Homo sapiens: one gene and its partners. The protein of the gene in region 1 purifies or fractionates together with the protein of each later gene. This does not show direct contact. Each region holds a gene or a part of one and is shown in the gene's direction. Other genes may lie near its edges.

Region 1 (3,932 bases):
CGCTGAAATAAAATTGGACACCAAAAAAGTAAGAAATTTCAGTTTTACTTGTAGGACTAATGGGAATCTTCAGGTCATTTGTTGTTGAGAAGTTAGTAAGGGCTTTTGAATGCGTATCAGAACTTGTAGGTTCCTTAAAATGTTTATATATAAAAATATATTTAACCCCTTTGCTCTGTGTGGGAAGTCATTCTTTTTGATCTTTGATTTATACAAGTTCCAGATTGGTTTATATTTAAGTACAAGTTGCTATAGTTCAGTCTGAGGTAAATTGCATCAGCAGTTTAAAGGAGAATTTTAAACATTATATTCCAGAATATTTATAAATTAAACCACCTACTCTAAAATTAAGTAATACAGGTAATGGAACATGTTTCAAGTAACATTTCTCTCTTTCTCTCTCTTTCGCTCTCTCTCTCTCTCTCTCTCTCTCTCCTACTTACATCAGAAAAAAACCCAATGACTTGTTACTAGAGAACAGACTAGGGCTGATATTTTCATTCCTAGCATATGAAAAACCCAGGCTTTTACTGTTTAGTTTTTAAAATCTTTTTCACTATTAAAGAAAAAGGAAAGAAAAAATTGTTGAATGTGGCTGAAGGAGAATTATCTTTAAAATATTTTAAATACAGTTGTTTTCTAGAAAGCATTTTCTATAGTTATATAAAAGTTTGATCTCCTGATACTATAGTAAAATAGCACAGTTGTAAAGTGCATTCCCTTATATTTTCATGCATTTACAGATGAGTTTAATTATTCGAATTAAGATGTGTGATTTTTTTAGCATCCATTGAACTTTTATTATTTTATTATGTACACACATTAGTCTTTGAGAGTTGATGCAGAATTGTGTTGTAAAAGTGGAACTATAGTAATTTGCACACAGTCCATGTCAAGAAAATAATCATCACATGCAAGTGTTTGAACTCTCAGGGTCTTATCATGGATTCTGATATCAAATCCTATTTTATTTTTAAGTTAAGCTTAAATCTGTAATAAAAACGAGTTATTTTGACATTTTTTATTTATACACATTTATGTAAATACTTTTTTGTAGCAGTATTTTAGACTTATATAGGATATTCTCTGTGTTTCCACTTCCCCTCCCCAGCGCACATATATCATTATTCAGACAGCTTAGATAACATTCTGTTGATCCCTGTCAAGTAGTCAAAGTATGAAATTTTGGAGTTACTGTATTTGAAATTCTTTAGCTCAAATCACTGAGGGACCCATTTTAAAATAATCCCGTCTTATTATTTTGCTTCATTTTTAATATCTTTTAGCGACAGCGATGAGGAAAAGAAAGCGAGAAGAGGCAGATCTCCCAAAGGTGAATTCAAAGATGAAGAGGAGACTGTGACGACAAAGCATATTCATATCACACAGGCCACAGAGACCACCACAACCAGACACAAGCGCACAGCAAATCCTTCCAAAACCATTGATCTTGGAGCAGCAGCACATTACACAGGGGACAAAGCAAGTCCAGATCAGAATGCTTCAACCCACACACCTCAGTCTTCAGTTAAGGTGGGAATGGCAGTAGTTTACACATTATACATGGTTTTATTTTTATAAACCGCTCTTCGAATTCCTGCATTAGTAGGCTTGGGCATTTCTAGGCAATCATATTAATTATGGATCATCTGGCATGTATTACCAAGAGACATTAATAATAAGAAATCTCTTTGAGGGGAGAAACCTGTCCAATTGCTGAATGATTGGGTACTTTCTATGAAAGTAGAAATGACACTTTTGGTTTGTTTGGGGAAGGTTGTGAATCAGAATGTAGTGCCTCTGTCCCCATCTAGACAATACTGGTTACCAACCACAAGTAGATTCACTAAAGAAAACATTGGAAGTATTTGAAAGTTTTAAGAAATGACAAACGAGGGAGTAAGAAGAGATATATAGGGGCAAGTTATCTCATGTAATGTAGAAACGTTGCCTATAAAGGGAGGCGTGTTTGCCTCACAGTCATTACTGATCAGTATCAAAAGAAGCACTGCCTCTTGTACCATCTTCGTTTGTTTTTATTTACCATAGAGATGAAATCCACCTGCTAGGTACCTGGCCAAACCCTAGTCTTTTCAACAGAAATCTGCCAAATAGGGAGATTTGCCTCAAAAGACTAAATTATTGTTTTTGTCACTTTCCCCGACTACTGTTTCCCCAGTTTGTGTCTTTGCAAGAGAAATAGCTAAAAGCTGGGAAAAACAGTTTTCTAATGTATGCAGCAGATTGTAGGTGACTCTGAAAATAAAACCAGGCCTGCTTAGTTGCAATAACAAATACCATGTCAGCTTTTGCCAAATATCTGTATAATTTTTTTAATAATAGAGACTTTTATCACATATCTTAAAGGATTTTAAATAACAGTTTGTAGTATAGCCTGAATATATGACACTCTGCAATAAATATTTTATATTTGTAGTACAAGCTTTTTCTTTTTCTTTTTCTTTTTTTGGAAGACCGAGTTTCGCTCTTGTTGCCCAGGCTAGAGTGCAATGGCGCGATCTTGGCTCACCGCAACCTCTGCTTCCCAGGTTCAAGTGATTCTCCTGCCTCAGCCTCCCGAGTAGCTGAGATTACAGGCATGCACCACCATGCCCGGCTAATTTTTTTGTATTTTTAGTAGAGACGGGCTTTCTCCATGTTGGTCAGGCTAGTCTCGAACTCCCGACCTCAAGTGATCCACCTGCTTCGGCCTCCCAAAGTGTTGGGATTACAGGCTTGAGCCACCGCGCCCGGCAGTACAAGCTTTTTCTTTTTTGTTTTCATTTACCCTCCTCCCCTCAAAAAAAATGTCTAGAAGGTTGAAGTTCTTAGAAAGTTACCCAACTCATTTGGATCTGTTCTTAAAGGTGTTTTGGAATCACAGTATATAGTATTTTAGTTTTCAAAGTTCAAATCAACATGCCTAGGATCTTAGGGTTTCCCCATTGCCTAATAATTGAGTTCTAATTTAGCATGTATATATCTAACATATAGGACATAGGTATTTAGGTATCAGGGTGCTTAGCTTTGTGGAGAAGATAAAAATAGTATTACAGGTATAGGCCTCAGTTTAGTTGGGGAACTAAATATGAAACATATCAATATATCAAATAACATAGAATTATACTAACTTGTGTGATATACAAACAATAAGTTTTGCTAAGGTTCATAGAAATTTAGAGCTGTTTAGGATCTTGACCTCTAATCCAGTGGATCTCAAGCCTTGGAATTATCTAGGGAGCTTTCTTGTAAGACTTTAACAGGCCAAGGTCTTGGCCTTTTTATACCTGGGCAATTATGACTCAGTGTATTGTATGGGACTGGTACATATGCTAGGGTATTTTTTTTTTTTTTTTTTTTTAATGAACTGATACTTAGCATTAAGATTCAAGTGGGATCTGGCAGTTAATATTTTCCAGAGTGAAATGCAGTCAGAAAAGTGAGGTAGGAAAAAAAGTGTCAATGTTAAGAGACTTTTACACTGCTGGGAATGGAGGTACTTAAAAGTGCTTGCTGCCTCTCCATAAGGATTCAAGGTCAGTACTCTTTTTCCAGAAAACCCTACCCTTATTAAGCTAATTACAGGTATTTATGTCTAAATTGAGAATTAGAGATGGATAGAGCTGATTTTTAGAAAAACAAACTTTTCGAAGCTCCTGAGTTATGTGTGTGTTTTCAGACTTCAGTGCCTAGCAGCAAGTCATCTGGTGACCTTGTTGATCTGTTTGATGGCACCAGCCAGTCAACAGGTAAGCTTCTACATTGGCCTTTTCTTTTGGTTTGAGAGTCATTTTTTAAAATGCCAAATAAAAGATAGATTGAAAAATAAGATTACTTATTTGCATTGGGTTCATTTTTTATATGAAATTAGTGAGTCTTGAGCATTATTTGGAATCATTGTGTTATTTTTGCTTATCTTTTTATATGTACAC
Region 2 (2,373 bases), on another chromosome or scaffold:
GAAGTCCTTGGTGGAGTCTAGTGCCACTCCCTGCCCTCCGGCCCAGCTGCTGCAGGCACAAAGCCTCTGCCTGCAGGATGCCCAAGCAAGCATTTGCCTTGGCTGCAGGATGCCATGCAGCATGCTGCAGAGTCGCGGGATGCTGAGCTGGCCCAGAAGTTGCTGCAGTGGTTCCTGGAGGAAGGCAAGAGGGAGTGCTTCGCAGCTTGTCTCTTCACCTGCTATGACCTGCTTCGCCCAGACATGGTGCTTGAGCTGGCCTGGAGGCACAACCTCGTGGACTTGGCCATGCCCTACTTCATCCAGGTGATGAGGGAGTACCTGAGCAAGGTAGGTGCCGGGCCGGCTGCAGCTCCCCGGCCCCTGTGTGGCATGACCCAACCCTGGCAGTGACTCTGGCCGCAGGTCTTAAGGGTGGGCCCCTTTGAGGCCAACCCAGATTCCCCAGCCAGCCCTGGCTGCCTTCAGGAGTGGCTGCTTTCCTTCATGCTGAAGTGGTTTTCTGCCCAACGTTAAGCCCCTCCAGAAAATCATCATGGGGAGTGCCCACTGGCAGCAGCCCTCCTGTAGACTCTGGCTGGGCAGCTGTCCCAATGTGCACACTGCTAGGAGCACAACAGGCGTGCTCATCCCCAGCCCTGGACTTCAACAAGGTGACAGTGAGGTGGCTGGCAATCCCAGCTCCCTGAGGAGCTCCCAGTGGCGTCTGGGGGTGCAGCTGTTAGCATACGGTTGGTGGTAGCTGCCTTTTGCTGAACACATAGTAGGAGTATTCACAGATCCACTGAATCCTTCTAACAGCTATAGGGAGGATGACTCTCTGCCTCATCGAAGTGACAGTACTTGATTGTAAAACTCTCCCTGGGTGTTGAAGTCCTAGGAGTCCCTGCTGGGATCTAGCTTTAGCCACTGTCCAGAGACCTGTGTCAGCAGTGTCATCTGGTACAGTTTGTTGTTTCTAACACTGGAAAAGCTACTTCCAGTAGCATCTACTTGCCTATCTAACCTCCTTCAAGCCAGATGGAGAGCCTCGGAAGGCACTCATGCTGAAGCATCACTCAGTGGAGCGAGGGAAGGGAGGGGCCTCCCAGGTGAGTGGGAGGTAGGAAGGAAACAGGAAGGCGGGCTCATGCTGCCAGCTTTAGCCTGGAGGGCTGCCTGCCGCCTGCAGAGCCTCCAGGGGGCTGCCCAGCCCCTGATAAAGGCCATCCCAGAGTCCATTCAAGGCCGTTGCCCTCCTGTAGGACAGTGTGACCCCATCCCATCTGCATAGCATGCCTGAGTGAGACTCCCTGATGACTCTCAAGGGTTGGGGAGGAAGGGACAGCCCTGGCTACGTGGCCTGAGATTCGTGGGCTGCCAGGGGACATGGACTGGTTGGATTGACAAGGGCCCTGGTTCCCCCACCACAGTGGATGGCAACTCCCTACAGGCGGCACGTGTGGTATGTGGTTTGTGGTATGCAGTGTGTGGTGTGCGGTGTCTGGTGCGTGCCTGTGGAAGCTGCTGTCACCATGATGAGCAGGTTTTCCCATCCCTCGGGTGTCTTTCCTGAAAGTAGTCTGTGTTCTGAGAACCAGCACAAGGAAAGAAAGTGCTTGAATCTCTTCCTGGCAGTAGAGGCCCGTGGGTTAGTGTCAGAGGAACTCAGGCTCACCAGGCCCTAGGGAGTGTCATTGCTGTGGGGGTCAAAGTGCTTGTGGGGATCCCCCAGGACTTTGAGGCGCACATTCCCTTTCTGTTGCGGATGATGGAGTTAGCAGCCACTATCACGTTGGTCCACACTGTGGCTGCACAGCCTTGGCCCAGGGTTCCCAGACTCCACTGGCCCTGGGAGGTGGTGGCTGCTGGAGCACCTTCTCTGCTGCCACCCACCTATTCCTGCTGGGGCAGATGAGACGCCTGTCATGGGGAGAGTTCAAGGAGAGGAGGGGGCTGGCAAGGGGTTTCCCAGTCAGTGGCATGGGGGTGTGAGCTGATTGTCAGCTTGAGCTGGTGCTCAGCTGACACCACACAGCAGTGCTGGGAGAATGAGGGCGCGGACAAGAAGCACAGTCCTTTCCTGGTGGACAGCTGGGCCTGGGGCCTCGTGGCTCATCTGGGAAGCTTGAGGGCCATCCCTCTGAGACGCCCCCAGCGCTCTCCCATTGTAGGGAGGGTACAGGCCTAGCTCAGCCCTCACCCTAGGTGTCAGCAAGTGTGCCCCCTGCTTCCTCCTCATTTCTCAGCCCCCCCCAGACCCCAGCTCATGGGGGGCACATTCTTATTTCTCTTTCTTACTCAGTGTGTTTGTGAGGGGATCCTAGCTGCACAGTTGCTGCCGCCCCTCTAGTGCAGTGCTGCCGCCTCGCTCTCTGGCAGTGGGTGGGGTCA
Region 3 (3,500 bases), on another chromosome or scaffold:
GACTATTGAGAGTGAAACAGTGAGACACTCAGCTGTGCTCCCAAAGCACAAAATGGGTCGCTGATTAGGGGGGTAGAAAGGAGTATGGGAAGGGACTTGAAAAACCTATAAAAGGCCAGGTGTGGTGGCTCACACCTGTAATCCTAGCACTTTGGGAGGCTGAGGCAGGCGGATCATAAGGTCAGGAGTTCGAGACCAGCCTGACCAACATGGTGAAACCCCGTCTCTACTAAAAACGCAAAAATTAGCTGGGCATGTTGGTGTGTACCTGTAATCCCAGCTACTCAGGAGGCTGAGGCAGGAGAATCACTTGAACCCAGGAGGTGGAGGTTGCAGTGAGCCGAGATTGCGCCACTGCACTTCAGCCTGGGCGACAGAGCGAGACTCCATGTCAAAACAAAACAAAACAAACAAACAAAAACAACCTATAAAAACAGATTCAACTACAGCTTTACCTTTGTGTTGCTAAAATCATAGGTCATTGGCACCTCCCTCAGTGTCTAGCAATGGAATATAGCAGTTACTATTTTAATGGCCTATCAAAGCAAGTGGTAAGCTCGCTGTTTAACAGAAGGAGCCCATGATCACTGTCTCTGAACTGGCTCTTTGCTAATGTTAATTAGCTTTACCTCCAGGGTAACTAATTTGTTGATGATGTACCATTTCCAGAAAAATTACAGTTAAACCTTAATAGTTTTATATCCTGATTGGACTTTTTATGTTGGTAGCATGGTCTTCTTTGTGTTGAATTGCTTTTTAAAAACTTTATTTTGGAAGGTAAAAGATACACAAACTAGAATAGTATAATGGGCCCCTTTCATACTCACCACCCAATTTCTGTGATTATCAATATTCTGCCATTCTTGTTTCATCTCTACCCTCCACACCTTTTTTTTTTTTAATTTTGAGATGGAGTCTTGCTCCGTCGCCCAGGCTGGAGTGCAGTGGCATGATCTTGGCTCACTGCAACCTCTGCCTCCTGAGTTCAAGTGATTCTCCTATCTCAGCCTCCCGAGTAGCTGGGATTACAAGCACCCGCCACCATGCCCGGCTAATTTTTGTATTTTTAGTAGAGATGGGGTTTTGCCATGTTGGCCAGGCTGGTCTTGAACTCCTGACCTCAGGTGATCACCCGTCTTGGCCTCCCAAAGTGCTGGGATTACAGGTGTGAGCCACTACGCCTATGCCCGGCCCAGATTACTTTTTTTTTTTTTTTTTTTTGAGACAAAGTCTTGCTCTTGTCCCCCAGGCTGGAGTGCGATGGCACAATCTCGGCAAACTGCAACCTCTGCCTCCCGGGTTCCAGCGATTCTCCTGCCTCAGCCACCCCCCGACCCAATTACTTTTTCTAAACTAGTACTTCAGGCACCTGTGTGCTTGATAGTGTAATGAGGTTGTCTATTGCCCCAGGCCAAGGGTTCCCGCCCGGACTTTACCGCAGATTGGAATCACTTGGAGAGCTTTTAAAGCTCCCCACGCACGCCCAGGACAAACCCCATACCAGTTGAGTCAGAATGCTGAGGTTGGGACCAGGCATTGTTATTTTTTTAAAGATTCCCCAGTGATTCCAACTTGTTTCAGAACTATTGCTCTTTAGGGCTAAAATAACAACACAAGGACTGGAGTCAGGACACCTGGGAGTTTGTGCTAGCTGTGTGCATTTCTCATAACCTCTTTAGGGCCACTCTCTGTGTGTAAAAGTGTTCTCTATGGCTCTGAAATTCTCCTTTAAGTCTAACCTTGTTAGACTGGTGTTCAAGGCTCTGCAGAAACTAGCTTCTACTCATCTCTACCATTTTATACTTAACAGGCTTCCAGGGCCACCACGCAGCCAAATGTGCCGGGCACGTTTCCTTCCATTCATCTTTGCTCGCCCTGTCTTTCACTAAGTCTAGAATGTGCTCCTCCCTCCTGTCTGAATAAGAGACCTGCTTTAACTTCGTGGTCATCCAGATGTAACCTCATGGACCCTCTCCATCTGAGTGCCTTGGTCAGCAGTAATCTCTTCCACCTCTGAACTCCAGACGTACTTACCACTTAGATCCCACATTTGGCAGGAGGCAAAACTTACCATATGTGGATGATTTTTATATGTATGGTCTGGACCCCAGAGCCAGACCTAGGCTCCTCTTTTCATGATAATATGGAGGAAAAAAAAGTGAAATGTGGCAAAGTTTGGACCAGGACCCAATTTTCCTTATTAGCCTCCTGTTTTCTTAATTCTGTGTTTTCTTGTATCACTGCTATTTTTCCCTACACACACAAATACATGAATATATATATATGAATGATATACATGTGACATATACGAATATATAGTATATATGATATAAACGATAGGTATGTGATATATATGAATATATGTATCAGTGATATATATGATATATGTGAATGTGTGTGATATATATATGATATATACATGAATGGTGCTGCTTTACAGTATAGTGGTTAGTGGTTCAGGATCCTCTCTCAGGATCCTTATGAAGTTTACAGTGTAAAGCTCTTAGTATAGGACCTGGCTCAGGTCAGGTACTCAGCTGTTACTATTGCTATAATTATTCTAGTAAGATTCCTAAGGGAATTGATGGGCGCATTTTCCTTCATTTAAAAAAAAACACTTATCAAGTTCCCTCAGTGTTCAAATGATATGTGGGAATTGAAAGGTTTTAAAAAATATATTGTTTACTCAAGCAAAAATTAGGACATTAGGGGCAACAGGAGTTTCTGATATTTTGTGATGGACTGGTCCTGGAAGATAATGCTGGTCATGTTAGTCCACAGAGTCTCTGCTTTTTAGGAGCAGACTGTCTGATAGGAGAAATGAAATGTGTATGCATGCTTAAGTATTTTCGTTTTTTTGTTCGTTTGTTTTTTTGAGATGGAGTCTCACAGTGTCGCCGGGCTGGAGTGCAATGGTGTGATCTCAGCTCACTGCAACCTTCGCCTCCTGGGTTCAAGCGATTCTCCTGCCTCAGCCTCCCAAGTAGCTGGGATTACAGGCACCCGCCACCATGCCTGGCTAATTTTTTGTATTTTTAGTTGAGACGGGGTTTCACTATGTTGGCCAGGCTGGTCTCGAACTTCTGACCTCATGATCTGCCCGCCTCGGCCTCCCAAAGTGCTGGGATTACAAGCGTGAGCCACCGCATCCGGTCTGCTTAAGTATTTTCTATATGATAGAAAGTAAAAATGCTCTGAGAGAAGCAAAACATAAGGGGCTATTGGGAGTTCACCGTGAACCCTTCAAAGCCTCCAACGCTGCTGAATGACAACTAGAAGCTTATTAAATGTTTTGAGAGAATTCTGGCAAGCTCAGATGTCAGGTGGGTGTGTGGCCTTTGTCCCCGGAGCATTTGGTTTTAGGCTAGACAATACTTGCTGTTCCTGCACCCTAGAGCCGCCCCCAGGCATCTGCAAGCCCAGCTTCTTCACCTTGCCTCGGTGTCACCTGATCCTAAGTAGCAGCTCCTTATCACTCTCTGTCCCTTTATCCTGCTGCG
Region 4 (3,500 bases), on another chromosome or scaffold:
ATGTTCTGAAAGATGCGTAGAATTTAGACATTTCCAGTGAAGAAGATAGCGTGAACAAAGGTGTAGAGATCCACTCACCCAATATTTATTTACTGAGATCTTACTATGTGCCAGGTACTGTTGTAGACACTACCCGTGGCTCATGCCTATAATCCCAGGACTTTGGGAGGCCACGGTGGAAGCATTATTTGAGCCCAAGAATTCGAGACCAGCCTGGGCAACATAATGAGACCCTGTCTCTACAGATAATTTTTTAAAAATAAAATTAGCTGAACATGGTGGTGCGTGCCTGTAGTCCCAGCTACTTGGGAGGCTGAGGTGGGAAGATTGCTTGAGCCCAGGAAGTCAAGGCTGCAGTGAGCTGTGATCATGCCACTACACTGCCTGGGTGGCAGAGCAAGACCCTGTCTCAAAAAATAAATTAACTAAGGCCGGGCACGGTGGCTCACACCTGTAATCCCAGCACTTTGGGAGGTCGAGGCGCGGATCACCTGAGGTCAGGAGTTCGAGACCAGCCTGACCAACATGGAGAAACCCCATCTCTACTAAAAATACAAAACTAGCCGGGTGTGGTGGCGCATGACTGTAATCCCAGCTACTCGGGAGGCTGAGGCGGGAGAATGGCTTGAACCCGGGAGGCGGAGGTTGCGGTGAGCTGAGATCGCGCCATTGCACTCCAGCCTGGGCAACAAGAGCGAAACTCCGTCTCAAATAAAAATAAAATAAAAATAAATTAAGTAAGTAAGTAAATAAATAAGTGGTGAAGGAAGGCCTCTTGGAGAAGGCATCATTTGAGAAAAGATTTAAAGGAGGTGAGGGCACAAGCTATGCAGACCTCTAGATAAACATTTCTAGGAAGAGGGATCAAAAATGAAAATATTCTGGGGTGTGTGTGTGCCTGTGTGTGTATGTAGTGGGTGATGGGATAAGGCCTCTCCTTCTCCTGGAGGCCACTGTGGCTGGAGCTGAGTGAAAAAGAAGAAAATGGTAGGAGATGCAGTGTAGGTGGTCTTCGGAAAAGAATGGGAAGCCAGATCCTGCGGGCCATCTGGGAGAGGATGGCTTTTGTTCTGTGGGAGATAAGGAACCACTGGAGGGCTTGGAGCAGAGGTGTGACATCGGGCTTCCATTTTTTTTTCAGTACTACTTTCACTGCTTTATTAGGAATAGATTGTAAGGGATGCAGTAGAAGCAAGAAGTCAGGTGGCTGGTTATGGGGTTATTGTCTTCTGAAAGCCACGTAAAGAAAGTGAAAGGTGATGGTGACCAGTGAAAGTGGTGAAAAATGATCAAGATTTACAGACAGTTGAAGGCAGAGCTATAGGACTTGCTGATGGATTCAGTGTGATGTGAGAGAGAGGAGTTAAGGCTCTCTCCAGGTTTTTGGCCTCAGCTAAGTAAGAAATTGGCCTCACCTGACAAGGAAAACAGTGAATGGAGCATGTTTTGTTGGGAGATGGGCTTGGGGGTGGAGGGTAGGAACTTGGTTTTAGACCTGTTAAATTTAAGATTCTTTAAGACATTGAAGTGGCGAGGCTAAGTTAGGTAATTTAATATAGGACTCTGGAGTTCAGTTGAGTAAAACATATAAAGTCCTGAAACTGGACAACATACCAAGGAAGTGAATGTAAATTTAAAAGACAGAGAGAGGCCCAGAGACTGAACCTTGGGGAGACTAAATATTTAAAAGTCAGAAGATAAGATGAATGCAAACAGTGAGGTGAGGTAGGAAGAAAACCAGGGGAGTGTGGTGGCCTGGGAGCCAAGTAAAGTGCTTCGAAGAGGAGAGAGTGACCAGCTAAGTCAGTGCTGCCCAGACCTAAAAACATGAGGACTGAGAAACAAATGCTGGATTTAGCAACAGTAAAGTCACTGTTGGCCCCAACAGAGATGATAATGAATGGTTTATATTTGGAAGACAGTAAGTTAGCAAGAGTAGGTTTATACTGAGAAATAGTGGAAGATCTGGATAAAGGGAGGCCAGAAAATGGAATGCTTTAGGTGCCAAATTGGAGAGTTTGGCCTTTGCCTTATAGAAAAATTACAAATAAAGGTATTTATATGGGACAAGAATAAAGCCAGTGTTTTTGAAAGTTTGCCTGATAGTAGTGGATGAGGAGAGGAGGGTCTTGATGCAGTAAGACCAGTCAGGAGTTTGTTCTAAAATTGAAGCTTATCAGGAGGGTAAAAACAAAGATGGAGGAAAATGAATAGATGTAGGATGACTGATAGAACATAGAGAATGAGAGAACAGACACCTAAAATGATTCCGATGCTGCCTGAGAGAAGGATGGTACCAGCAGCCATCTCTGGGCTTCAGGTTAATATGAACTAGCTTTAGAGATGGGCTGTCCTTGGAAAGTTTGAGACACAGGAATTGTCCCCAGGTATGCAAAGCTGAAATAAGTTTTAGGGATCAGGAATATTTGTTGGACATATCGGAATCTCATACTAAGTCTGGGATATAAAGGCTGGAGAAAGAGATACACTAAAGCACAGAGGCCATTCTTCGTGGGGAAAGAGATTGCGGGAGCCCTGGGAGATTCTGTGATGGGGCTATGATCTAGATCCTTCACAGGTCAGGCCCAGCAGAGGGAGCATTCTCACAGGTGATACAATTATTACAATTATGAAAGATAGGCAAGACAGTTGTAAACAACTCTCCCCTCCTTAGGGAAAAAAAATGGATCTGCTGGCTTTTAGAGGAAGTCAGTAAGATTTAGGGAATGAGAAAATCAAAACCTGATGTATTAATCATTTTTCAATTTGTTTTGGTAGTTCTACCCTAGAACATGTAAAAGTTGTAGAACTTTAGAATAAGAAAAGAATGTACAGATAATTGAACTATTTACTACTCTTTTACAGGTAATGAAATTGAGGCTCTAAGAGCTTCAGTGCTATTTAAGAAGTCACTCTTCTAGTTCATTTCAGCTTGACAGATGTTTATTGAACTCCTATTTGCCAAGTACTGTGCAAGGTGCTGAGAATACAAAGGTGAATAAATGACAAGAGAGGTTATTAGGCTGCAGATCATAGAAGACCTTATAGGCCATCATAAGGATTCAGGTCCTTATGATAAAAGGATTGGGAAGCCTTTGATGTTTGGATTGTTTGTTTGTTTGTTTTGTTTGTTTGTTTTTTTGAGAGGGAGTCTGGCTTGTTGCCCAGGCTGGAGTGCAGTGGCACAATCTCTGCTCACTGCAACCTCCACCTCCCTGGGTTCAAGTGATTCTTCTGCTTCAGCCTCCTGAGTGGCTAGGTCTACAGGTGCCCACCACGCCCAGCTAATTTTTGTATTTTTAGTAGAGACGAGGTTTCACCATGCTCGCCAGGCTGGTCTTGAACTCCTGACCTCAGGTGATCCGCCTACCTCGGCCTCCCAAAGTGCTGGGCTTACAGGCTTGAGCCACCGTGCCCGGCCATTGAAGTGTTTTAATGGGGAGGGCTATGAGATGGCATGATCAGGTTTGTGACTCCAAAAGATCATTTGAATCTATTTC

The links. Proteins that work in one complex are often made in the same cells at the same time.
Region 2: the proteins of CLINT1 (region 1) and CLTCL1 purify together in Homo sapiens (affinity purification with mass spectrometry; 2 studies listed by BioGRID and IntAct, with this or other methods). This does not show direct contact.
Region 3: the proteins of CLINT1 (region 1) and STX8 purify together in Homo sapiens (co-immunoprecipitation; 3 studies listed by BioGRID and IntAct, with this or other methods). This does not show direct contact.
Region 4: the proteins of CLINT1 (region 1) and LOXL3 purify together in Homo sapiens (affinity purification with mass spectrometry; 2 studies listed by BioGRID and IntAct, with this or other methods). This does not show direct contact.

What each region holds. Positions count from the first base shown.
Region 1 is NC_000005.10:157,803,467-157,807,398, reverse strand, and holds part of CLINT1 (clathrin interactor 1), read left to right. Parts: intron 1-1,286; coding exon 1,287-1,533; intron 1,534-3,679; coding exon 3,680-3,749; intron 3,750-3,932. UniProt on the Homo sapiens protein: Binds to membranes enriched in phosphatidylinositol 4,5-bisphosphate (PtdIns(4,5)P2). May have a role in transport via clathrin-coated vesicles from the trans-Golgi network to endosomes. Stimulates clathrin assembly.
Region 2 is NC_000022.11:19,181,347-19,183,719, reverse strand, and holds part of CLTCL1 (clathrin heavy chain 2), read left to right. Parts: intron 1-108; coding exon 109-330; intron 331-2,373. UniProt on the Homo sapiens protein: Clathrin is the major protein of the polyhedral coat of coated pits and vesicles. Two different adapter protein complexes link the clathrin lattice either to the plasma membrane or to the trans-Golgi network.
Region 3 is NC_000017.11:9,569,321-9,572,820, reverse strand, and holds part of STX8 (syntaxin-8), read left to right. Parts: intron 1-2,883; exon of another isoform or gene 2,884-3,265; coding exon of another isoform or gene 3,266-3,323; intron 3,324-3,500. UniProt on the Homo sapiens protein: Vesicle trafficking protein that functions in the early secretory pathway, possibly by mediating retrograde transport from cis-Golgi membranes to the ER.
Region 4 is NC_000002.12:74,543,943-74,547,442, reverse strand, and holds part of LOXL3 (lysyl oxidase homolog 3 isoform 1 precursor), read left to right. Parts: intron 1-3,500. UniProt on the Homo sapiens protein: Protein-lysine 6-oxidase that mediates the oxidation of peptidyl lysine residues to allysine in target proteins.